7 linked regions of the Homo sapiens genome follow. The protein of the gene in region 7 interacts with the protein of the main gene of each other region in a biochemical or structural test. Each region holds a gene or a part of one and is shown on either strand. Other genes may lie near its edges. The genes, in order: UBA1, MARCHF1, TRIM21, EPS15, GID4, UBR2 and UBE2H.

Region 1 (3,500 bases), on a different chromosome or scaffold from region 7:
ACCTCTGCCTCCTGGGTTCAAGCGATTCTCCTGCCTCAGCCTCCTGAGTAGCTGGGACTACAGGCATGCGCCACCACGCCCGGCTGATTTTGCATTTTAAGTAGAGACAGGGTTTCTCCATGTTGGTCAGGCTGGTCTCGAATTCCCGACCTCAGGTGATCTGCCTGCTTCAGCCTCCCAAAGTGTTGGTATTACAGGCGTGAGCCACCACACCTCACCCCTCCTTTTTCTTGTTCCCATTCTTTCTGTCAGAGATCTTTCTGCCTCTGCCAGAAGCCCTTCTTTTTGGCCTTTCTTTCCCTCAGCTTCTGTTTTTTTTTTTTTTTTTTTTTTTTTTTTGCCTTAACCTCTTTTTAGTGCTGGTTGGGACAGTGTGTCTGGGGTCCTCAAAACTACTCTCAAGCTCAATTCACCTAGAGTACTTACAGGACTCAGCATATAGTCGTGCTTGTGGCTACAATTTATTACAGCAAAAGGATACAGACCAAAATCAGCAAAGGGAAAAGGCTGGTGCAAGTTTCTAGGAGTCTTCTCCCAGCGGGAGTTAAACAAGGCGGCCTTTATTTCCCCAGTAGCAACAGTAACTACAGAAATAACAGCAACAAGGTGTAACAAGACATGAAATGTTGCCAACCAGGGAAGCTTGTTAGACTCAGCACCACCTCTTTTACTTGGGGCTGGTCATGTAGGCGCCCCCTTCCTGGCACATAACAAAATTTCCAGACTCCCAGAAGGAAAGGTGTTCAGCGTAAACTGTATTGTTTGCATGAACGGTTTAGGCACAGTGAACCACTGATACCAGGTAGGGAGCGGTGGGAACCTTCCTGAATTCCAAGTTCCCAGACACCAGCCAAGGAGCCGACCTTGGAAGCAGGCCTTTCCAAGGGTTGTAGTTTCAGTCTCCTAGGCTTACACTTCTCTGCACATATGGAAACTGGGTTGGTTATGCAGGGTTCTCTGAGAAGCTTTCTGTAAGGAGCAGTGTCGTTTTTGCTTACCCAGGATTTATTCCCCCTTTCATTTATTTCATTTATTCACCAGATAGTTTTAGTACTGTTTTAGGTATTGGGGATATACCAAGGAATAAAACAAGATTCCTGGAGGGAGAGGGGAACGGACAGCAAACAATAGACACAATACGATCGTGAGGTATATAGTTAATGTTGGTGATGAGTGCTCCTCAAAGGAAACAACTAAAACCAGACAAGGGAAGTCGGGGTGTCAGGGAGAATGGTTTGTAGTATTGATGACAATGGTTAAGGAAGGCCTGAGTTCTGCAAAGACCTCAAGGATATGAGGGACTAGAGTGCCCTCTGCTGTGGAAGAGCCTGCGCAAAGATCCTGAGGTGGGAGGGGTCAGGGAGCCAACTCATTTTACGGTAAGTGGAGGTGGGATCCAGGGGAGGATTCTGAGCAGAGGAGGGACGTGGCCCAATTTGGGCTTTGAAAGGATCCTGCTTGTCTGTGTGCCAGCATCCTGGTGGTGGTTGGGGGAGTCTGCATCAATCCTGGGTGCTGTTACCTGAAAAAATAGCAGGTGTTAGACGAAAGAACAGATGTCTGGCCCATTGTCTCCAGTCTGTTCCTGTCCACAGCTTCCCTTTATGCTGAGCCCCTGCCACATGCATCATCATCCTGGCCATGTGGCATTGTCACAGACCGTCTCTCCTGCTAGCCTCCTAACTCAGGGCCTGGGTCTTCCCCAGCATTAAGTAAATCAGTCTCAGGCAGACAGCCCTTTATAGGTGTTTGGGCCAGGTGCGGTGGCTCACGCCTGTAATCCCAGCTCTTTGTGGGGCCGAGGTCTTTGAGCTCAGGAGTTCAAGACCAGCCTGGGCAGCATGACAAAACCCTGTCTCTACCAAAAATACAAAAATTAGCCACGCATGGTGGCACACACCTGTGGTCCCAGCTACTCGGGAGGCTGAGGTGGGAGGATCGCTGGAGCCTGGGAAGTTGAGGCTGCAGTGAGCCGTGATCATGCCACTGCATTCCAGCCTGTGTGATGGAGAGAGACCCTGTCTCAAAAAAAATAAAGATGTTTGTTGGGTGAATGCACAAATAAGTGAGCTTTGTTCCCCCATCCCCACCCTGGAACTGCACTTTCTTAACCCTTTAGAAGTTAAAGTCTGACACGGCTGCTGCAGCTGTGCGCCAAATGAATCCACATATCCGGGTGACAAGCCACCAGAACCGTGTGGGTCCTGACACGGAGCGCATCTATGATGACGATTTTTTCCAAAACCTAGATGGCGTGGCCAATGCCCTGGACAACGTGGATGCCCGTGAGTTTGGAGGCGGGTGAGGTGGTCACGGGCAAAGTTGTGTGTGTTTCGGTGTGTATATACCAAGAGGGGTGTCCGTCTTTCTGTCCTCTCCTGATGTTTCTTTCCTAGCTCTCGCTTTGTGCTCCCCACAGGCATGTACATGGACCGCCGCTGTGTCTACTACCGGAAGCCACTGCTGGAGTCAGGCACACTGGGCACCAAAGGCAATGTGCAGGTGGTGATCCCCTTCCTGACAGAGTCGTACAGTTCCAGCCAGGACCCACCTGAGAAGTCCATCCCCATCTGTACCCTGAAGAACTTCCCTAATGCCATCGAGCACACCCTGCAGGTGATAAGCTGTGGGAGAAGGGAAAGAGGCCAGGCATCTGGCCAGGCTGCTGCCTCTCCGCCCCCAGGCCCTTGCCTTGCCTTCAGATGTTGCATGCCTAAGTGTAAGATGTGCCTTTTCTCCAAACCTCCCTCCCTCACTTCCCACCAGGCAGCCTAGGTTTCTAGAATGACTCATTCTTTTTTCACTTTTATTTTGATTTTTTTTTCAACACATAGACAAATATTAAGAATATTATGATGAATACTCAAATACCATTCCTCACCTAAATTTAACAATTCTTAATGTTTTGCCACATTTTCTTCTTAGATTTATGTAGATTTTTCTTCTTTGTGCTTAAATGTGTCACAGACATCACAGCCCTTTACTCCCTACTATTTCAGTGCCTCTGCCAAGTGAGGATATGTTGCTGTAGAACAGGGTTTCTTAGCTTCAGCACTACTGACATTTGGGGCTGGTTATTTATTTGTCATGGGAGAGGGGATGCCCTGTGCACTGTAGGATGTTTCTCAGCATTCCTGACTTCTGCCCACTAGATGCCAATAGCACTCTCCCTCCATCATGACATCTCAAAATGTCTCCAGACATTGCCAGATGTCCCCAGGGGTGCCACATCACTCCCAGTTGAGAACTACTTCTGTCTAACAGAAACATCATTTTCATGCTCAGCAAAATTAACAATCATTCTTACCATCTCTTCTAGTTATTTATTTGTCTCTAATGGTCCATATTCAGGTTTTCCCCAGCTGTTACTCAAAATGAGTTTAACAGCTGGTTTGTCAGGATGATTCTGTGTGTATGGTGCATTTATCTACAGAACAGTGCATATATTATCTAGCTCGGGGTGTCCAATCATTTGGCTTCCCTGGGCCACATTGGAAGAA
Region 2 (3,500 bases), on a different chromosome or scaffold from region 7:
AATGCTTTGGCTCTGACTCTTCCTTTGAAATTTTTGGGGAAAAAATGTTCTCTGATCTTAAAAGGGATTGTAAGAAAACATGAAAAGCCTCTCACTGTTGTTGATGTTTCATTAATTTGTTGCTCTGTTTGGCACTGTCAATTTAAAATAAATTTCTATGCCTCTTTCAGCAATCAAATCTGAACTTAGTTTTTGAGTAGATTAAATATATGCAATCAAATTTATTAGAACCTTTACCGGTAGCAAAGGTAAATTTTTTCTAACTAACTCCTAATACGCAAGGACTTCTTTATGACTTGAATAATTCATAGTAGTCATCATCTTGAATATTTACTTAATCCTAATGGAAATAATACTTCAAAATATCATTGGCCAAAGCTCACACAGGAGAAATAAGAGATCATTACAGTGGCAGGTGTAATTAATAGGCAGATAATTAAATATCCCTAGATCTATTAAAGAAATTAAATCAACCATAACCTTTCAGAGCAGAAAGCACCAAGCTCAAATAGTTTTACTAGTGGATTCTACCAAACATTTAAAGAAGAAATGACATCAATGTTCTACAGTCTTTTCCAGAAAATAGAAGAGATAATACTTCCTAACTAATCGGGTGAGACTAGCATTACCCAATACTAAATTCGGCAAAGACAATTACTATGAAGAAAAGTTATAGGCCAGTATCTCTCATGAGCAGATACAAAAATTCTCAACAAAATATTAGCAAATTGAATTCAACAATGTATAAAAACAGTTACACACTACAGCCAATAGAGATTTATTCTAGGTATGCAAAGTTGGTTCAAGTTTCAGAAATCAATGTAATCACATCAATTAGCTAAAGAAAAATGTGAATATATCAATAAGTGCAGAAAACACATTTGACAAAATACGACGCTCAATCATGATAAAAACTAGGAACGGAAGGGAATTTCCTTAATGCGATAAAGAACATAGAAAACCTATAGCTGACATAATGGTAAGAAACTAGATGCTTTCCCCCTAAGATCAGGAACAAGACAAGGATGTTCCTTCTTACCATGCCTATTCCGCATCACACTGGAAGTCTTAGCTAATGCAATAAAACAAGAATAATAAAAGATGATTGAGAAAGAATAAATAAAACTATCTTTGTTCACAAATGATATGATTATGTATAAAATCTCAAAGAACTGATTAAGTTTTTTTTTTAAATAGGTGATTATGACAATGTTGCAGGATACAAAGTTTTACAAAAAGTCAATTGCTTTCCTATATATAGCAGTGAACAACCAGAATTTGAAATTAAAAACATAAGCCCATTTACATTTGTGCCAACAAAACAAAAACAATGACAACAACAAAAACCTTAGGTGTAAACCTAACAAAATATGTACAAGATTTATGTGAGAAAAACTATGAAGCTATGATGAAGGAAATAAAAGAATATCTGAATGAAATAAGATGTTCCACATTTATGGATAGGGAGACTTAATATTATATTATTAAGATATCTATTCTTCCCAGTTTGATCTACAGATTCAATACTATCCCATTCAGAATTCCAGCAAGTTATTTTATGGATATTGACAAACTGATTCTAAAGTGTATATGGAGAGCAAAAGACCAGAATAGCCAACACAATATTGAAGTGGAAGAATAAAGTTTTTGAAAACTGACACTATCCTTGATTACTACCACTACGGTGATCAAGACAGTGTGGTATCAATGAAAGAATAAAGAAATAAATCATTGAAACAGAATAGCCCAGAAATAGACTGATACAAATATAGGAAACTGATCTTTAACAAAGGAGCAAAGGCAATTCAATGGAGAAGGGATAGTCTTTTTAACAAATGGGTGCTGGTATAACAATATCTGCATGCGAATAAATGAGTCTGTAAACAGACCTTAAATTTTTCACAAAAATTAACTCAAAATGGATTATAGAACTAAATGTAAACTGTGAAACTATACAGCTTCTAAAAGATAAGAAAATTCAGGTGACCAAAGTATGATCTATGAAAAGAAAAATGGATCAATTGGACTTTATTAAAACTAAAACCTTTTGCTCTGAGGAAGTCACTGTTAAGAGAATGAAAAGCCACAGGAAAAAATATTTGCAAAACATATTCTGAAAAAGGGATTTGTATCCAAAATATACAAAGATCTGTTAACATTCAATGATAAGAAAATAACCTAATTACAAAATGAGCAAAAGATTTGAACAGATATGTCATCAATGAAGATAAACAGATGGTAAGATTATTAATATATGTGATTAGAGAATTGCACATTAAAACAAGATATCATTATATACCTATTAGAATGGCTAAAGTTTTAAAAAAGAACACTGAAAACACTGAACGTTGGAAAGGATGTGGAACGACAAGCAGGAATTCTCATTCATTGCTGATAGGTATGCAAAATGGTACAGTCACTTTGGAAGACAGTCTGGCAGTTTTTTACAATGGTAACCACAGCTTTTCAAATGATACAACATTATACTTATTCAAATGAACAAAAACTTACGTCCACACAAAAACCTGCACACAAATGTTTGTAGCAGCTTTATTCATATATTTGTTCAAAGCTGGAAATACCAAGTGGTTTTTCAATCTGTGAATGAATAAACTGTGATACATCCATGTAATGGAGTATTATTTAGTGATTAAAAAGAAATGAGCTATCAAGCTACAAAAGGACACGAAGAAACCTTAAATGTATATTGCTAAATAAAAGAGGTCAGTCTGAAAAAGCTACATACTGCGTGATTCCAACTATGTGACATTCTAGAAAAGGCAAAACTGGAGATAGTAGGATCAGTGTTTGCCAACAGTTTAGGAGGAGAAAGGAAGGGATGAATAGGTGGAACACAGGGACTTTTTAAGGCGGCAACACCATTCTGTATGATTCTGTAACGGTGGACACAGGACGTTACACGTTTGTCAAAACTCATAGAACTGTACAACACAAAGAGTGAGCCCCAATGTAACTATGAACTTTAATAATGTAAGAATATTGGCTCCTCAGTGGTAACAAATGTACCACGTTGAGGCAAGATGTTAATAACAGGAGAAACCTTGTGTATGTGCAGGGTGGTATGTGGGAACTCTCTCTTTACCTTCTTTGTAATTTTTCTGTTAACCTAAATCTGCTCCAAAAATAGTCTTTTATATATAATATATATATATATATTTATATATATTAGCTCCTTACTTGAGAGATTAGTTCCATGAATTCATCACTGTGTCTAGGTCAGTTTATAGAATTTCTTCGAGTAAGAGATGGGTTTGTGAGCATTTAGGTATTTGGAAATTGGTAATGTATGCATGATATATTTATGGAAACTATTGCACAAAAACACTCCATTTCTTTTTAGCCATGCCCAATGGAGTTTATTGTGCCTAAAATTTGCTGCAGTCTTGCACAATAAATGCTCATGATCTATACCTCTATTTATTTTATCGTCATCCTCAGCTGCCTGATTTCTCTCATCCAGTGCCTTTCTTAGTAAACTT
Region 3 (3,153 bases), on a different chromosome or scaffold from region 7:
AGTGTGTTGGAAAGCCTGGTTTACAGACAGGTGTAGTGGCTCACTCTTGTAATCCCAGCACTTTGGGAGGCTGAGGGGGGCAGATCACCTACGGTTGGGAGTTTGAGACCAGCCTGACCAACATGGAGAAATCCCATCTCTACTAGGGATGCAAAATTAGCCAGGTGTGGTGATGTGAGGCTGAGGCAGGAGAATCGCTTGAACCCGGGAGGCGGAGGTTGCAGTGAGCCAAGATCACACCATTGCACTCCAGCCTGGGCAACAAGAGTGAAACTCTGTCTCATAAATAAATAAATAAATAAATAAATAGAAAGCCTGGTTCAATGTTGGGCAGAAGAGAGCCTGTCAAGTCAACCCAATACAATTAGGTTTTCTGCACAAACCTGAAAGCAATGGCTCATGACCACTCTGAGTGACACTGAACAGGTGTGGGAAAAGAGCTGTAGAATGTTAGAACAGAAGGGACTTGTGAGACCATCTAGTCCATAGTTTCCTACAGTGAGGCAAACATATCATTGGTGGATGCAAGATGATTCTAAGTGCAACATAAATTGATTTTTAAAAAGGTCCTGTACTTATTTTCATCTTTACTTTGCGTCTTGAACGCGAACCTTTCATGGGTTTGAATTCTACTTCATTTAAGAACATTCCAGGGACCAGGTGTCCATTTATTCAAATGGCAGTTCCAGATAGCTCTGGTCTTTTTCAGTTATTCCCTGAATTGTAGAAGGAAACCCCTCCCTGTCTCACCTGCAGCAGTTCCAGTGCTGAGCTGTGGCACCTTCGATCTAGCTCTGAGATGAGCTCCTGTAGGGCCTGGCTCTGCTGGGCCAGCTTGGCCTCTTTCTCCCCCAGGATTCTCAGCTGCTCCCTCTCATCCTTCTCCAGCTCCTGCAGCTGCCTCTGTTCTTCTTCAACCAGGAAGTTTTTTTGCTGCACAAACTCTGCGTGAATCCTAGATTTCTGTGTTTCCACTGTTTTCTTTAGTGTCAAGGGAAAGGGAGAGGTGGTTTTTATGAAAATCTCCCAAGCTTTGGGAATGGAGGTATTGGTACCTATTCCTATCCCCAAGAGACTCCACTCTGTGCTGTCTGGGAAAACACACACACATGCACACGCACACGCGCGCACACACACACACACACAATTTTGCTTGGGAGGTAGGTGGTTGAGGTTTCTGGGACAGTGAGGGGAATGGACTTGGTGAGGGCACACTGTAGCTGGCCTACAACGACAGCTACACGAATATATGGCATTGGGGACTTTTTCCAACCTCTCTTCCAAGCCCAGTCACCACTCAAATGTGCCCCTGTGTCTTCCTGTCTCAGTGAGTTACTGAGAAAAAAATCACCTGTTCCCACCTCCAACAACCTCACAAAGCCAGGCTCACGCCACCACCTCTAAGTCCTGGGAAAGGGGGCTTGGGGACATTCTTTGCTTTTCCTCTCCTGTTAGTAACTGGAAGGTCACTCGATGACACATGAGGGTCTGTTTTGTCACCACAACCCAACTCACACCCTACCTCAATCCCAAATCTTCCTCTTCTGTGATCTACTGGGGATGGGCTCCTTCTTCTCCCCTCTCATCCCTGACATGCCCCACCTCTCCTAGGAAATCATCAGTGCAGAACAAACATTGATTCTTCATTATATTTTGGACCAGAGATCTGGTCATGGTCAAGTAACCACCTGGTCAGATGGTTTCCTTAAGTTTATTCCTCACAGCCCTTGTCATTTCCTGAAAGGCTTAGCTAGCAGTTGGGTTTCTACTAGGATATTTGTCTCACACATCCAGGTGCTGACGCCATCACACCTCTGAGACTAGACTCAGAGGAGCTCGAAACTTTAGGGTATAGCTAGATCCTCTCAGCACCTTCTTCCAGGATTCTTGATCTTCAGGCCTGATGGGGAGCTCCCCTTTGAACCTGCATCATTTTTATTCCCCTCTATTTGTAAACCTAGAGAGCAGCTGGCTTCTGGAGAGTGAGACGGACCAACTCTATCACTGCTCAGAGAGGCACAGCTACGGTTAAGGCTGTGAGTTGAGGACTCTGGACCCTGCCCAGCCTTCCAGCCTAAGATCTCCTTCAGGATGTCATTCTTACCTTCCAGTCTGCTCTCTTTATTGCAATTTCCACTTCCAACTTCTCAGCCAACTCCTGCTTTCTTCTCAGTTCCCCTAATGCCACCTGGAGCTTCTCCTGCAGAGAAAGACAGCTTATTCGTCCCCCATGCAAACCAAGTAATAGGGTGGGGTAATCCTTGCAGCATTTTCTCATGCATATCTCCTACGCCTGGGGAATGAGGTTGGGTTTAACTTATAATTCTCCTCCTACATTAGACATGGAGAGAGGTAAACCCCTCCTTTCTCTAACCCCTCCAATCCAGAGGTGGTCCTCTCCCATTCCCTGCTCTGAAAACGAAGCACTCACCAGGTGTCTCTTAGGCCTCACCTGGTACTCCTGTGCAGCCTCCTCAAGAGGGACCATGGCGTGGTCACGGTGTTTCCGAGACTGGGCACATACCCAGCAAAGGGCCTTCCCATCTTTCTCACAGAACAGGTGAAGTCTCTCTCCATGCACTGCACACCGTTCCCCCTGTGTGCCCTCTCTGGCCTCCTGGCTGATTTCTTTAAGGTTGTTCACCATGTTGGCTAGCTGTCGATTGGGCCGGAGATTCTTGAGCAGAAAGCGCTGCCGGCACACAGGACAGACGCTGCCCCCACCTTTCCCAACCTGAGAGATGCATTCCTGGCAGAAGCTGTGGCCACACTCGATGCTCACAGGCTCCACGAAGGGGTCCAGGCAGATAGGGCATGTGACCTCCTCCCACATCATTGTCAAGCGTGCTGCTGAAGCCATTGTCAAGTGTGCCGTTAAACAGCAGTGTGGAGACCTTTAGGGGGTTTGGCTGGGAGAGAAGAAGAAAGGGAAAAGAGAATATGAGAAAGTCTGTGTAAGAAAAACAAAAAGTCAACATAATCCCTATCAAAATACCAATGACATTCTTCACAAAAATAGGAAAAAACAATCCTAAAATTTATATGGAATCACAAAAGACTCAGAATAGCCAAAGCTATCCTGAGCAAAAAGAACAAAACTGGAGGAATCACATCATCTGACGTCAAATTATACTGTAGAGCTAAAGTAACCCA
Region 4 (3,500 bases), on a different chromosome or scaffold from region 7:
ACAGAGGAAATTAGATAAACTGCAGCTATTATTATATTGCCAATCTGGTTTTTTGTTTTGAATGGTGAAATTACAAGCTGTAAAGCAAGGACAATATTCCTTTAGAAAACTGGGAATAAAAGTCAGTAAAACAAATGGTAGAAAAATCTCATGGGGGACAGGACAAGAGGAATGTATTCATTTTTAAATTAGAAGAGCTAATTTAGCTTTCTTGCTCTTTAGATGATAGGAGAATGAGAGGCTAGAATAAGAAGGTGAGAGGAGAAGAATTCCAGTAGCAGCAATTTTAGAAGAATTTGGCAAATGGGTCCACATTGCAAACTAAGTGCTATAGGAAAACAGAGTATCCAGCAGCCCAGGGAAACGAAAAATATTCAGTCACGAAGGTATCTGTCCAGTTTTTATTCAATGGAAAACACCAGTTCTTAGCCAAGCAGCTCTTTACTGAATACAAAAAAGAAGCAACTTTCAATAATACAAAACCTATTATCTTTAAAATAATCAATTACATTTTAAAGGAAATATTCTTAATCTAATAGTACTAGAAGACAAATTTTTTGCTTCAAATGCTTCTCAGTTAACTGGTCCTTTATAGGTTCAGTTTACCTACAGACATGAAACTGTGGTCTCAAAAACGAAGTCTCAAAATACAAATTAAAAAGCAAAACCAAAAACCTGCAAAACCATTCCTAACTATTGAAATTGGGTAATGGATGCATGGAAGCTTGTTAAAATATTTCATTACATTATTCTCCTTTGAGTATTTCTAAATATCCACAAGATGAAGATTTTTTTTTTTTTTTTTGAGACGGAGTCTCGCTCTGTCACCCAGGCTGGAGTGCAGTGGCGCGATCTCGGCTCACTGCAAGCTCCGCCTCCCGGGTTCACGCCATTCTCCTGCCTCAGCCTCCTGAGTAGCTGGGACTATAGGCACCCACCACCGCGCCTGGCTAATTTTTTGTATTTTTAGTAGAGACGAGTTTTCACCGTGTTAGCCAGGATGGTCTCGATCTCCTGACCTCGTGATCCGCCCACCTCAGCCTCCCAAAGTGCTGGGATTACAGGCGTGAGCCACCGCGCCCAGCCATGAAGATTTTTTTAAAGCCTCCAGATAAAACAGCAACTAGCTATAGGACCTTAAACATGTTAATTTTTCTAAGTCCCAGTGTCCTCATTTTTAAAATAGGGATATCAACACCTACTTTGCAAAATTGATGTGAAGATTAGAAACAATGAATGTAAAGCACACACCAGTACCTGGATCAGGCATGTGGTTATTAAACAGTGATTGCTGTAGGTATGTACATTCTCAAGAGAGCTTGACATTTAGTGAGAATTTGTACTTTGCAGAATTAACATTCCAGATGTGTCTATGAAATAACATAAACGATTTTATTTTTCTAAAATTCTTTTAATTTTCATTATTTCAATAATATACCAAACATTTCAGAAAAGTTTTATGTAAGATTGGCTTATAAATTTCCAATCATTTTTAGTATCCTCAATAGGATAAGATTTAGTCTCTTGAAAGATGAACATCACTTTTGGACTCCGTTCAGTCATTCCAGTTAATTCCAGTGGGTAATCAAACTATGAAATACCAGTCTGAACCAAAAACTAAATGAATTGGGATGAGACTGAAATTCTTATATGGTCCATTAGAAGTAATCTAAATGAGGGTTCTTTCATCACTATGTATTTCAAGAAACTTGCTTAGGACACTTATTATCCATTTAACTTAACAGTTTTTAATTCTCCCACTTACCGATGTAATACTGCTATTGTTGGCTGCACTGAAAGGGTCAGTGCTTGAAGTGGCAAAAGGATCAGTAGATTGCCTGAAGAAACAGTCTGATGCAAATGGATCTGAACCTTTGAAAGGATCACCACCAAATGGATCTAAAAAAATAAGGCACGAATATAAGAGACAAAAAAAAATTATTGCACTAAATTTCCCATCACTTGAAGGTATGATCAGTGCCTTAATTAAAAGACAGTCTGGGGCCAGGTGCAGTGGCTCACGTCTGCATTCCCACCACTTTGGGAGGCTGAGACAGGCAGATCACTTGAGGTCAGGAGTTCAAGACCAGCCTGCCCAACATGTCAAAACCTCCTCTCTACTAAAAAACACAAAAATTAGCCAGGCATGGTGGTGCGCACCTATAGTCCCAGCTACTCGGGAGGCTGAGGTGGGAGACTCACTTGAACCTGTGAGGCAGAGGCTGCAGTGAGCAAAGATCTGCCACTGCACTCCAGCCTGGGTGACAGTGAGACCCTGTCTCAAAAACAAACAAACAAAAAGACAGTTTGGGCCAGGTGCAGTGGCTCACACCTGTAATTCCAGCACTTTGGGAGGTTGAGGTAGACGGATGACTTGAGCTCAGGAGTTTAAGACCGGCCTGGCTAACACAGTGAAACCCTGTCTCTACTAAAAATACAAAAATTAGCCAGGCGTGGTGGTGCGCGCCCGTAATCCTGGCTATTCGGGAGGCTGAGGCATGAGAATAATAGCTTGAGCATGGGAGGCGGAGGTTGCAGTGAGTCAAGACCGCACTACTTGTACTCTAGCCTGGGCAACAGAGCAAGACTGTCTCAAAAAAAAAATCCAAAAAGACAGTTTGAAATACTGTAGAATCTAAGCTGAGTACTTTTTATTTCACAGACTCCTTTGCAATTTTGATAAAAGATACAGAACCTTCCACCTAATAAACTTATTTTTAAAATTAACATATAATTTCAAGGGATCCAATTTTAAGTCCCCTTATTCTACGCTACCGTAACTAAAGAAAACACAATAAAAACTTCTAAATGTATTTTTCTCTCTGAGCTCAAAGCTAACAGCCAATAGTTTAGAACAGGTTTGGGATGCAAAACTAAATGGTAAACAAGATTTGCATTATTCTAATGAAAATTCCCAGAAAAAGAATATCTCAAAAAGCCTGATGTTTTAGTAATTCTTCAAGATTCTCTGCCTCTAATCACACGTGTGGGCTATAATCTTAGGAAAACAAAATTACATTCTAAACCCTGAAGCAGTATAGATCATTATGCTCACCAAACCTTTAGTTAGTAAGGAGGAATCAGAATAAATATTTAAAGCACCAAAGTCTAAACACTAATGTCATTTTTAAAAAAGTAAAGCTATCGGGCACAGTCGCTCACACCTGTCTGTAATCGCAGCACTTTGGGAGGCTGAGGCAGGAGGACTGCTTGAGCCCAGGAGTTCGAGACCAACCTCGGCAACACAGTGAGACCCTGTCTCTACAAAAAATAAAAAAAAATCAGTCAAGTATGCTGGCATGAGCCTGTAGACCTAGGTACTCAGGAGGCTGAGGCAGGAGGATTGCTTGAGCCCAGGAAGTCAAGGCTGCAGTGAGCCATGATCACACCACTGCATTCCAGCCTGGGTGACAGAATAAGACCCTGTCTCAAAAACAAAAAACACCAAAAAAAAAAAAAAAAAAAAAAAGAAGAAGTAAAAGTAAAGCAACAATTCATTA
Region 5 (3,500 bases), on a different chromosome or scaffold from region 7:
CCACCTGCTGGTGGCCAGCACCTTCATACACCACTTGGGCTCCCCCAACCTTCTGGATACTCAGGTCTTGTGCATTCTCTTGTATCACAGAGAGACACAAATGACTGTCTAGTTTTTAGTGTCCATTTGCTACAACAATCAAAATGTATAGAATTCAAAAAACGCTTTAAAAAGCTCAAGTTTAAATTTAAATTTAACTGAACCTCAGTATTTGATAGATCTCCTTTTTTTACTCAAGTAAAAAACAGCTTGGGGCTGGGCATGGTGGCTCACGCCTGTAATCCCAGCACTTTGGGAGGCCAAGGCAGGAGGATTACTTGAGGCCTGGAGTTCAAGACCAGCCTGGCCAACATGGCGAAACCTTGTCTCTACTAAAAATACAAAAATTAGCCAGGCACGGTGGTGCACGTCTGTAATCCCAGCTACTTGAGAGGCTGAGAGATGAGAATCACTTGAATCTGGGAGGCGGAGGTTGCAGTGAGCAGAGGTTGCAGTGAGCCGAGATTACGCCACTGCACTCCAGCCTGGGTGACAGACTGAGACTCTGTCTCAAAACCAAACCAAACAAAACAGAACAAAACAAAACAAAAACCCCCATAAAAGAAAAACCAAAAAAACAGGTTGGGTCAGTGGCTCACACCTATAATCCCAGCACTTTGGGAGGACAAGGCAAGAGGATCACTTAAGATCATGAGTTCAAGACCAGCCTGGGTAACATAGGGAGACTCTGTCTCTACAAAAATAAAAGAAAATGAGCTCAGTGTGGTGGCACGTGCCTGTAGTTCTAGCTACTTGGGGCGCGGAGGTGGGAGGATTACTTGAGCCCAGGAGGTTGAGGCTATAGTGAGCTATAATCATGCCACTGCACTCCAGCATAGACGACAGAGCAAGACCCCAACTCTAAAAAAAATTTTTTTTAAATAAAATAAACAAATAAAAAACATTAGTAAGCAAAGCAACTGATCTCTAGTGAGGTGAACTCAAGACAAGGGTCTGCGGGAGTTCTCTCCACAGACTGCTGTGCCAGAACCAGGGGAGAGTTTAGATAGCCAGGTGTGAGAGGCAATGGGAAGAACGAGTTCTAGAATCTTTGCTACTGACACAGCCATTTCTGGTTGGTTTATGGAGGGTAAACCCATTGAACTTCTTCAATGTTAAACAAAAATTCACCATCACCATGGTCAACTAAAGCAAAAGGCTATTAGGTTGAGAAAATGATTTTTTTTTTTTTTTTTTTGAGACGGAGTCTCACTCTGTTGCTCAGGCTGGAGCGCAGTGGCACAATCTCGGCTCACTGCAAGCTCCGCCTCCTGGGTTCACGCCATTCTCCTGCCTCAGCCTCCAGAGTAGCTGGGACTACGGGTGCCCACCACCACGCCCAGCTAATTTTTTGTATTTTTGGTAGAGACGAGGTTTCACCGTGTTAGCCAGGATGGTCTCAATCTCCTGACCTGGTGATCCGCCCGCCTCGGCCTCCCAAAGTGCTGGGATTACAGGCGCAAGCCAACGCGCCCAGCCGAGACACTGATTTTTGAAGACATGGTACTTATATGACAACAAATGAAAAGATCCCAGGACACTAACTGTCTTGAAGCATTCACTACTGCTGAGTGAGAATGCTCTACACTTGACAGTTAAAAAGGGGGGCAGCAGGATTTATAGTGGTGTACTTAAGACAAGACTATACTTGTCTGTCAGCAGCCAGGATAAAAAGAAATGATGTGGCTCTGCCCTGATAAGCCAGTGGGCAGGCAGATTCCCACAACATCATCTCCATCTCATGCCAGCCCCGAAGCCGGAGGTCATCATTGCATGTTTCACAGGGTTTTCCCCAAGCAGAGGTGATTTGAAAGGAACAGTGGACAGAAGATGGACAAACAGGTGGGAAGGATGGGGGGACACTGTTAAGATTCTGATAGCTGAGCAGAGTTCTGGCTGGAACTCTGGGGTTGCTATCATCAGACAACCATTTGCTATTTAAGCAGCAGGTCAGATCGTATTTAAACTGTCCTCATAAGGAAGATGGAACAACTGAGGTCTGTGTGCAGTGCAACCTTTTACTTGGTTGCAAAGCCCCAGTAATCCTCAATAAGGGACAAGGTCTCTGGCTCCCAGCATTTCTTCAATTCTCTAGCAGCCCCTAGATGACCCAGCACAGATCAGATTTACTCACCCAGTGTTTCCGATCAACATCTTCATCTGCATCCCACTTGCGAGTTAAGAAAGGGTGTTTTTTGCTGATTATTTCTCCTTCGAAGAAGGTTGTAAGGGTTGGATACTCCTATGGTAAAAACCCAAATATCAAAATAAGATGTTGAGTGAGAGTTTTTAACCTTTGTACAAAGGAAAAATAAACTTTGCTTTAACTTCTTTCCAGTACCTAGACACTGCTACCTGACAATCCAAACCAGAGTTAGATCGCAGCCAGTTTGCCAACAGGCTGTGGCAATGGACCTGAATCTAAATCACCCAGAGAATGAAGGGTTTCCTGGATTTTGCCAGCAGCAGACAGCCCTTCTTTGACTTCAATTGTTACATGCTAGTCTCTTAGAAAATAATTTGGATGTTTCCACAAATAAATTTTTAATATTCTAGCATACAAAGCAGATCATAACTTGGTAGATTTTACTTTCCAAGGTTAGACCCAAAGAGGCTCCAAAATCACTGTGTCTACCACTAAGGCTCCCTCAAGCCACTGGTTCTCCAACTGGCTCAGTCATTTGTCCCTTTTACACCAATTCTCCAAGGTTCCAGGGTGGATTCTGGGGTAGAATACTTTTTTATTTTTCCTGAGACAGAGTCTTGCTCTGTCGCCCAGGCTGGAGTGCAATGGCACAATTTCGGTTCACTGCAACCTCCTCCCACACCCTGGGTTTATGTGATTCTCCTACCTCAGCCTCCCGAGTAGTTGGGATTACAGTTGGCTGCCACCACGCCCACCTAATGTTTGTATTTTTAGTAGAGACGGGGTTTCGCCATGTTGGCCAGGCTGGTCTCGAACTCCTGACCTCAGGTGATCCACCCGCCTTGGCCTCCCAAAGTGCGAGGATTACAGGTGTGAGCCACCGCACCCAGCCTAAAATACCTTTTATTTTGGCCAGGCATGGTGGCTCACGCCTGTAATCCCAGCACTTTGGGAGGCCGAGGTGGGAGGATCACCTGAGGTCAGGAGTTCAAGACCAACCTGACCAACATGGAGAAACCTCATCTCTACTAAAAATACAAAATTAGCCGGGCGTGGTGGCGCATGCCTGTAATCCCACCTACTCGGGAGGCTGAGGCAGGAGATTGCTTGAACCTGGAGGCGGAGTTTGCAGTAAGCCGAGATCACGCCATTGCACTCCAGCCTGGGCAATAAGAGTGAAACTCTGTCTCAAAAAAAAAAAAAAAAAAAAAAAGTAAATACTTTTTTCAGTGTTCTACATGTTCAGAGAAACTTCTAGTAATGAACTATACAAATGGTCCCTGAAGGTAGTCTTAGAATACCTTGATACATAGGG
Region 6 (3,500 bases), on a different chromosome or scaffold from region 7:
AAAATTGAAGTCTTTTTTTTTTGAGATGGAGTCTCACTCTGTTGCTCAGACTGGAGTGCAATGGCACAATCTCGGCCCACTGCAGCCTCTGCATCCTGGGTTCAAGCGACTCTCCTGTCTCAGCCTCCCGAGTAGCTGGGATTACAGGTGCATGCCACCGTGCCCAGCTAATTTTTGCGTTTTTAGTAGAGATGGGGTTTCACCATGTTGGCCAGGCTGGTCTCAAACTCCTGACCTCAGGTGATCTGCCCATCTCGGCCTCCCAAAATGCTGAGATTGCAGGCATGAGCCACCATTCCCGGCCTAGATACATTTTTTAGCCTGGGCATTCACATTCAGTTGGTCAGCAGAGTCTGACAAATTCTCACCATTCCTTCTTCTACTTGTTTGGTTCAGCCCCATATTATTTCTTGCCTAGATTATCATAGCAGTTTTTACCCAGAATCTCACTCTTCTCTAATACGTTATTAGAGGGGCTCCTCAAAAGCAATCCTGTTCATATTCTTCATACTTTTACAAACTTCTTAACCTATTTCTCCATTATCACCTCCTGCCAGTTCCCACCCCTGTGGTCCAGACTTGTAGAATCACTGCCAGTTCCTCAATGCTAGTTCCCATGCCTTTGCACATTCCATTTCCTCTGCCTAGAGTACCCTAAGCAGACTGCTACTCTTTCAGATGCTGTTCAAGCTTTCCCTTCCCTTAGAAAGCCCTCTGAACCATGTACTGTGAGTTAGAGACCTCTCATCTGTGATGCCTGCCTCCTTCCCCACTTTCTTCCTTTCCCACCCCAGGACTTTAAGCTCTTTGAGAGCAGGAGGGGGAGAATGGGTTTTATTTGAAGATCTTCAGAACCAAGACCTAGTGTATATAGTAGGACCTCAATATTTATTGAACCAAACATTACAGAAAATTTGGAAAATGAAAAAACAAGCAGGAAGAAAAAAGTCATCAACTTATCACATACCCATCTTTTTCCATTAGCATATTTATGCTTGATTACAATTGGTACTCACATGTAGCTTTGTTTCTGCTGTATTCTTTAAATCAAGAGTTTTCTTATTACTGCTACTTAGTCCTCATAACAATTTTTAATAGCTGCAGGCACCCTCATTTGTACCACCATCTTCTTAGACAGTTTCCCCAATATTTGGAGTATCTCTTTAGGATACTCTACATTTTACGGAAGAGTATCCACATTTTAGAGGATCTCTTTAGGATAAACATAAGAGATATGTGTTTTAGGGTATCTGTTTAGGATAAACATAGAGAAATACTGCATCCGCATCTTGGCTTGTTTATTTGTTTTTTGAGATAGAGTCTCGCTCTGTTTTCCAGGCTGGAGTGCAGTGGTGTGATCTCAGCTCACTGCAACCTCTGCCTCCAGGGTTCAAGTGATTCTCCTTCCTCAGCCTCTCGAGTAGCTGGGATTACAGGTGTGAGCCACCACACCCGGCCTGCACTGGCATCTTGGGAGTGTCCCTTGCTTTCTGTCAGATGCGTATATTCTATATTCTTTTCTTTTCCAGAGAAAACCAGCAACATGGTGGCAAAGAGATAGATTTCATTTATTCAGCACACACTTAGACATTTCCCATTCCATTTATCCTGTGTTAGAGGCATGTCATTGAGATGTCATAGATCTAGTTCCATACCATCTAGAGCAGTTTCATTGTGCATCCAGCTGTGCTCTGAACTAGCATTCCTGAAAGAGAACTGCTTTGCATTTTTGTTTTTTGTTAATTGCGTTGGTTTATTTTAGGATGACTGTCTTAGGTCATTGACGAGATTTGCCGCAGCACACTGGACAGTGGCATCAGTTTCAGTGGTGCAAGGACATTTTTGTAAACTTTTTGCATGTGAGTATTAATACATTTATAACATGTTGTAATTTTTCATCCTCTGAAATTTTGTTTTTAATGGTACAGCTTCTCTCAGTAATGAATTAAATATTTAGTAGTACTGGTTTTCTTATATATAAGCTCTAGCTTATAAATTCTCATGTGTCTTGCAAGAAGATAAATTTAAAGCAGATTATATGCATTTTAACATGTTGGCATATGAAATATGCTAATGTATTTCTCTTTAAATCTGTAGCACTGGTGCCTAATGACAGCCATGAGGAACTTCCATGCATATTAGATATTGACATGTTTCATTTATTGGTGGGTATTGTGCAGTTTGTTTGGACTTCTACGTCATACTATGTAACTTTACCTTAGGTTTGGTGAGCAGTGTAGTGGCAGACAGGAAGGAGTTATGTGATTTCCTTACCCCTTCTGAGTATAATTCTTTTATGAGAAACCTCAAAAAGAAAATATTTAGGAACCTAGTTGAGAGACTTGACCTGGTTATCGAGACGTCCTCTGACTCTTATTTTGCTTTATGGCTGAGGTTAGTATTTTAACCTCTCTGTGCTTTTAACCTGTAAAGAGATAAAAACACCAGCAACGGGTCAGGTGTGGTGACTCATGCCTGTAATCCCAGCACTTTGCGAGGCTCACCCCAGATCACTTGAGGTCAGGAGTTTGAGAGCAGCCTTGCCAACATGGTGAAACCCTATCTCTACTAAAAATACAAAAAATTAGCTGGGCGTGGTGGCACATGCCTGTAATCTCAGCTACTCAGGAAAGTGAGACAGGAGAATCACTTGAACCCAGGAGGCGGAGGTTGCAGTGACCAAGATTGCATGACTGCACTCCAGCCTGGATGACAGAGCAAGACCCCATCCAAAAAAAAAAAAACAGCAACAGAAGCACTGCTGCTGGCCCATACAGTGCTTTTGTACATTTTCGAAAATCTGGCAGATACAGCCCTGTGGTCACACTACTTAGCAGCAGAGAGCCCCTTATAATTCAGGGAAAGGTATGTCCTCTGAGCCAGGACATCCTAGTGCTAAGACACACAGCTGTCCAAATAGTGGGTAGCCAAATTTCAGCCCTACCTCAACTGGGTTCCCTTGCACAGGGTACAGAGTGTACTGCCACACCCAGCAGCCCCGAGTGCTGTGCCTTTATTCTCTGGACCTCAGATTCTGCCCCTTTAAGTTGGTTAGTACCTACTTTATATGACTATGTCAGAACTCAGTGAGTTAATCCATGTAACACACTTAGAGCAATATATTCCTAATAAATGCGGCTATTACTGTTCTCATTGCTGCAACTAAAACCACCACCACTTATACTGCCATGCAGACAGCAGGAGGCCAACAGAGCTAGCATTTGTGTACCTGCCAGCTTTTACATACGTTCACACTTACATCTCTACAATTTACATGTAACATATTGTCTTTAGTTTACCAATAGGGAAACTGAGGCCTGATCAGAGATATTAATTTGTGTAAAACAGCTCATAAGAGGAGGAGGTAGGATTCATATCTAGATATTTATGGGTCCAAAACCCATGTTTTTTCAACTGCCTACAGTCCTGGAGAGAGTTCAGATACTGTTTTTGTTAACAATAAGCTATGTATAGAGGACCCACTGGATTAATGAAATCAT
Region 7 (3,500 bases):
ATCCCAATAGTACTGGACAGAATTGCTCTACTTGGCCTCTATCTACAAATAATGACATCCAGCTGTTCCAAAGGCAGGATGACGTTTGTGATTCAACATGGACAGATCAATACTGAAGTTCTCAAGCTGTTCAAATAGTAGTTGGCCAATTAATCATCCATGAAGACACATACATGTATTTCTTATCTGTGTAGTTACACTAAAATGTTTAGGAAACAGCATGCACTAATCCAGCATAAAGCATTATTTTAAGATATACCTTCTGCCAAAATCTGAATTATTTGGGAAGATTCACAGACTATCTAACTGAAAAGGGGATGGGATAAGTGTTAAATTTGTATTTTAAATTTCTAAATGCCTGGTAAAATAAATTTTAGGTGCCTGTAGTCCCAGCTACTCGGGAGGCTGAGGCAGGAGAATGGCGTGAACCCGGGAGGCGGAGCTCGCAGTGAACTGAGATCGTGCCACTGCACTCCAGCCTGGGCGACAGAGCGAGACTCCGTCTCAAAAAAAAAAAAAAATTTGTATCTCTTGCCTAATCTCAAAGTCCTTGAAGTATTCCTTCTGTTGTAGTCAATTTTATTTGCCTGTTACTAACTCCCCAGATAACTCTAGGGGAAGACTTTTCCCAAATGTTGATTTTTCTCTCCAGCAAAATAAGAGTAGAAGTATCTAGTCCACTGGCTAGCAACCCTAAGAGTGAAAATGTAAACTGCCCAATTTCATAAGAAAATTGTCTTCCACCTCACTTCTCCACAACTTTTTTTTTTGTTTGTTTTTTTGAGATGGAGTTTTGCTCTTATTGCCCAGGCTGGAGTGCAATGGTGCAATCTGGGCTCACTGCAACCTCCGCCTCCCGGGTTCAAGCAATTCTCCTGCCTCAGCTGTCCGAGTAGCTGGAATTACAGGTATGCGCCACCACGCCTGGCTAATTTTGTATTTTTAATAAAGATGGGGTTTCTCCATGTTGGTTATGGCTGGTCTCGAACTCCCGACCTAAGGTGATCCGCCTGCCTTGTCCTCCCAAAGTGCTGGGATTACAGGCATGAGCCACCGTGCCCAGCCTACAACTTAATCCATCATATAAATAATTTACGAAGGCAGTCAAAGAATGAGTAAAATGAAAGCTGGAGAGAGAAACACATTTGCAGGGATCAAGCATGCCTGGTCCAGAAGGGTGGGATGAGAGAGAGATTAAAGCTGTATCGCAGTGAAGGCACCTGGGCCCCCAGGAGTGCAGGGTGATAAGCCAACTACAGATAAAATATATTTTGGAGAAAAAAAGGAAAACTGGAAAATAGAAGAGTGCTTAAAAAGCTACCTGTGGCTTAATGAACTCTCCTATCAGTCCTTAAAATTAATTTGTTTTGAAATGGAAATCCAGATCCCCTTGGCTACATTTTATGTTTCTCAGAGCTTCTGTCACTGCTGTCTGGAAGAGCAGGAAGGGATGCAAAAAAAAAGATGCTATCATGCAGGAAGCCAAAATCACTTTGGTCATCTGCTACTTTCTGTTTAATGTCATAACAATAACAATAGATAACTTCATACTTGATAACTTCATACTGATGGCAAGCATCTTACAAAATTAATCCGATTCCTCACTATAATTAGCTCTCTTGTAAGGTTAAATAATACAAAATTAAAAATTACTGGGTGAGTAAACCACAATTATACCAATTTTGAACTCTGAATAAACAAATTGCACATACACTTGGCAAAGAGAAAACAGGATAAGAACAGAAGCAATGAGTCAACTGGCTTACCAGAAATCAATGGCGGGGAAGGGTGTGAGGGGACAGAGGACTAAATTTACTGCTAACATGAATGTTGTTTAATATCAGGCTATGATTAACATACATCTGAAATTTCAACTGTGAATTGTTGTTACGCTACAAATATGTATACCCACAGAACAGTACATGTCCTGGGGCAAGGTAAATGGCAGGAAATTTCACAATCCACTCCCTGCTCCCTCATCGAATCTACAGCAGAGGAAAGTGTTGAAACAAGTTTTAGGTGCCAGGCTTAGCCTTTTGCTTTTCAGTTGAATATTTATGTTGACACGCCAACTTTCTCCTATTAGTTATTTAGTGTTAGTTTTTTTTTTTTTTTTTTTTTTGGCGGGGCAGGGGTTGGCGGGGGCAGTCCTTTGAACTAAGATTCTCTCAGGAACCACTGCAGGAAATGAAGTGATTCAGAACTCACCAATTATGAACTAACCTTCAATGCCAGAGGCTTTAACAGTTTCTAATAAAAATTCAGTTCAGATCTCAAGTTCAGATAAGTCTGAAAAAACACTTCAAGGTCATCTGAACGAACATATTCTACCAGTACTTTATATAATTGTATTTACCTGTTCCTAAAACTTTCCGTGAAAGAAATGTTGAATTTTCTTCAGAAATAGTTTTGAGCAAAATGTCAAAACAATTCTCCCATGCTCAGTGTACTTTTGACTATACTCTGAAAATATTTCTTCTTGTTTTCCTGCACTTACCTGTTAGTGTGCTCACACTCCTGTATTATGGAACATGTTCAGTAACTCATACACATGTAACACAGAAGTCTGCTTTCAGTTCACTTGGACCAACGTGGTTTAACTCTTGCTGCTTATTAAATGCTTTGCAAGCTAATGTAAGTACACTAACATTTTATAAATGTGATGAAAACTTACTCATGTTGGCCACTTTACAAAGTAGTCTATCAGTCCTCAAATAGTTAAACATATTATCCAGCAATTTCACTCCTAGGTATATACCCAAGAGAAATGCAAACATGTCTACACAAATACTTGTGCACAAATATTTATAACACTCATAATAGCCAAAAGACAGCAATAACCCAAATGTCTATTATCTGACAAATAATGTGGTTTATCTACACAATGAAATATTATTCAGCCATAAGAACTTCCGATACATGCAACACGGATCAACCTTGAAAACATTATGCAAAGTGAAAAAAAAAACAGTCACAAAAGACCACATATTATATAATTACGTTTCTAAGAAGTGTCCAGAAAAGACAAATCCACAGAAACAAAAAGCAGATTCGTGGTTGCCTAGGGCGAATAGTTAAAGGGTACACATTTATTTTTGAGGTGATGAAAATGTTCTAAAATTGACTGTGGTGATGGCTGCATATAACTGAATGTATTAAAAACTACTGAATTACACACTTTAAATGGGTGATTTGCATGTCTGTGAATTATAATTCAGTGAAACTGTTATTTTTTTAAAAAACCTGTTCTGAGACATGAAGTACTTGACAGTCAGCAAACATCTTTCACAAAGCTTTTCTGGTCAATGGTAAAAGCTTTAGCAAAACTAAACATCAATTTACTTCATTGTAATTGGAACCAGATTGCAGTATTTTGATATGTACATTTTTAAGATGTGAATGTAGTTTAAGAAAACACATCATTACATCAGATATTCCAGGCAGCCTGCCATGAGACATTTTTACCAAAAAAACCATCTTAAAAGGAATCCATTTAATCA

The links.
Region 1: of the proteins of UBE2H (region 7) and UBA1, one has a biochemical effect on the other in vitro, tested with the Homo sapiens proteins (3 studies listed by BioGRID, with this or other methods).
Region 2: the proteins of UBE2H (region 7) and MARCHF1 form a complex in vitro, tested with the Homo sapiens proteins (one study listed by BioGRID).
Region 3: the proteins of UBE2H (region 7) and TRIM21 form a complex in vitro, tested with the Homo sapiens proteins (one study listed by BioGRID).
Region 4: of the proteins of UBE2H (region 7) and EPS15, one has a biochemical effect on the other in vitro, tested with the Homo sapiens proteins (one study listed by BioGRID).
Region 5: the proteins of UBE2H (region 7) and GID4 form a complex in vitro, tested with the Homo sapiens proteins (one study listed by BioGRID).
Region 6: the proteins of UBE2H (region 7) and UBR2 form a complex in vitro, tested with the Homo sapiens proteins (one study listed by BioGRID).

The regions. Positions count from the first base shown.
Region 1 is NC_000023.11:47,203,829-47,207,328, forward strand, and holds part of UBA1 (ubiquitin-like modifier-activating enzyme 1), read left to right. Parts: intron 1-439; exon of another isoform or gene 440-2,033; intron 2,034-2,119; coding exon 2,120-2,285; intron 2,286-2,419; coding exon 2,420-2,616; intron 2,617-3,500. UniProt on the Homo sapiens protein: Catalyzes the first step in ubiquitin conjugation to mark cellular proteins for degradation through the ubiquitin-proteasome system.
Region 2 is NC_000004.12:163,530,520-163,534,019, forward strand, and holds part of MARCHF1 (E3 ubiquitin-protein ligase MARCHF1), read right to left. Parts: intron 1-3,500. UniProt on the Homo sapiens protein: E3 ubiquitin-protein ligase that mediates ubiquitination of TFRC, CD86, FAS and MHC class II proteins, such as HLA-DR alpha and beta, and promotes their subsequent endocytosis and sorting to lysosomes via multivesicular bodies.
Region 3 is NC_000011.10:4,387,550-4,390,702, forward strand, and holds part of TRIM21 (E3 ubiquitin-protein ligase TRIM21), read right to left. Parts: intron 2,910-3,153; 5' UTR 2,861-2,909; coding exon 2,453-2,860; intron 2,201-2,452; coding exon 2,105-2,200; intron 982-2,104; coding exon 751-981; intron 1-750. UniProt on the Homo sapiens protein: E3 ubiquitin-protein ligase whose activity is dependent on E2 enzymes, UBE2D1, UBE2D2, UBE2E1 and UBE2E2.
Region 4 is NC_000001.11:51,397,267-51,400,766, forward strand, and holds part of EPS15 (epidermal growth factor receptor substrate 15), read right to left. Parts: intron 1,900-3,500; coding exon 1,766-1,899; intron 1-1,765. UniProt on the Homo sapiens protein: Involved in cell growth regulation. May be involved in the regulation of mitogenic signals and control of cell proliferation. Involved in the internalization of ligand-inducible receptors of the receptor tyrosine kinase (RTK) type, in particular EGFR.
Region 5 is NC_000017.11:18,052,908-18,056,407, reverse strand, and holds part of GID4 (glucose-induced degradation protein 4 homolog), read right to left. Parts: intron 2,282-3,500; coding exon 2,174-2,281; intron 1-2,173.
Region 6 is NC_000006.12:42,672,029-42,675,528, forward strand, and holds part of UBR2 (E3 ubiquitin-protein ligase UBR2), read left to right. Parts: intron 1-1,762; coding exon 1,763-1,859; intron 1,860-2,097; coding exon 2,098-2,165; intron 2,166-3,500. UniProt on the Homo sapiens protein: E3 ubiquitin-protein ligase which is a component of the N-end rule pathway.
Region 7 is NC_000007.14:129,851,961-129,855,460, forward strand, and holds part of UBE2H (ubiquitin-conjugating enzyme E2 H), read right to left. Parts: intron 1-3,500. UniProt on the Homo sapiens protein: Accepts ubiquitin from the E1 complex and catalyzes its covalent attachment to other proteins. E2 ubiquitin conjugating enzyme that transfers ubiquitin to MAEA, a core component of the CTLH E3 ubiquitin-protein ligase complex.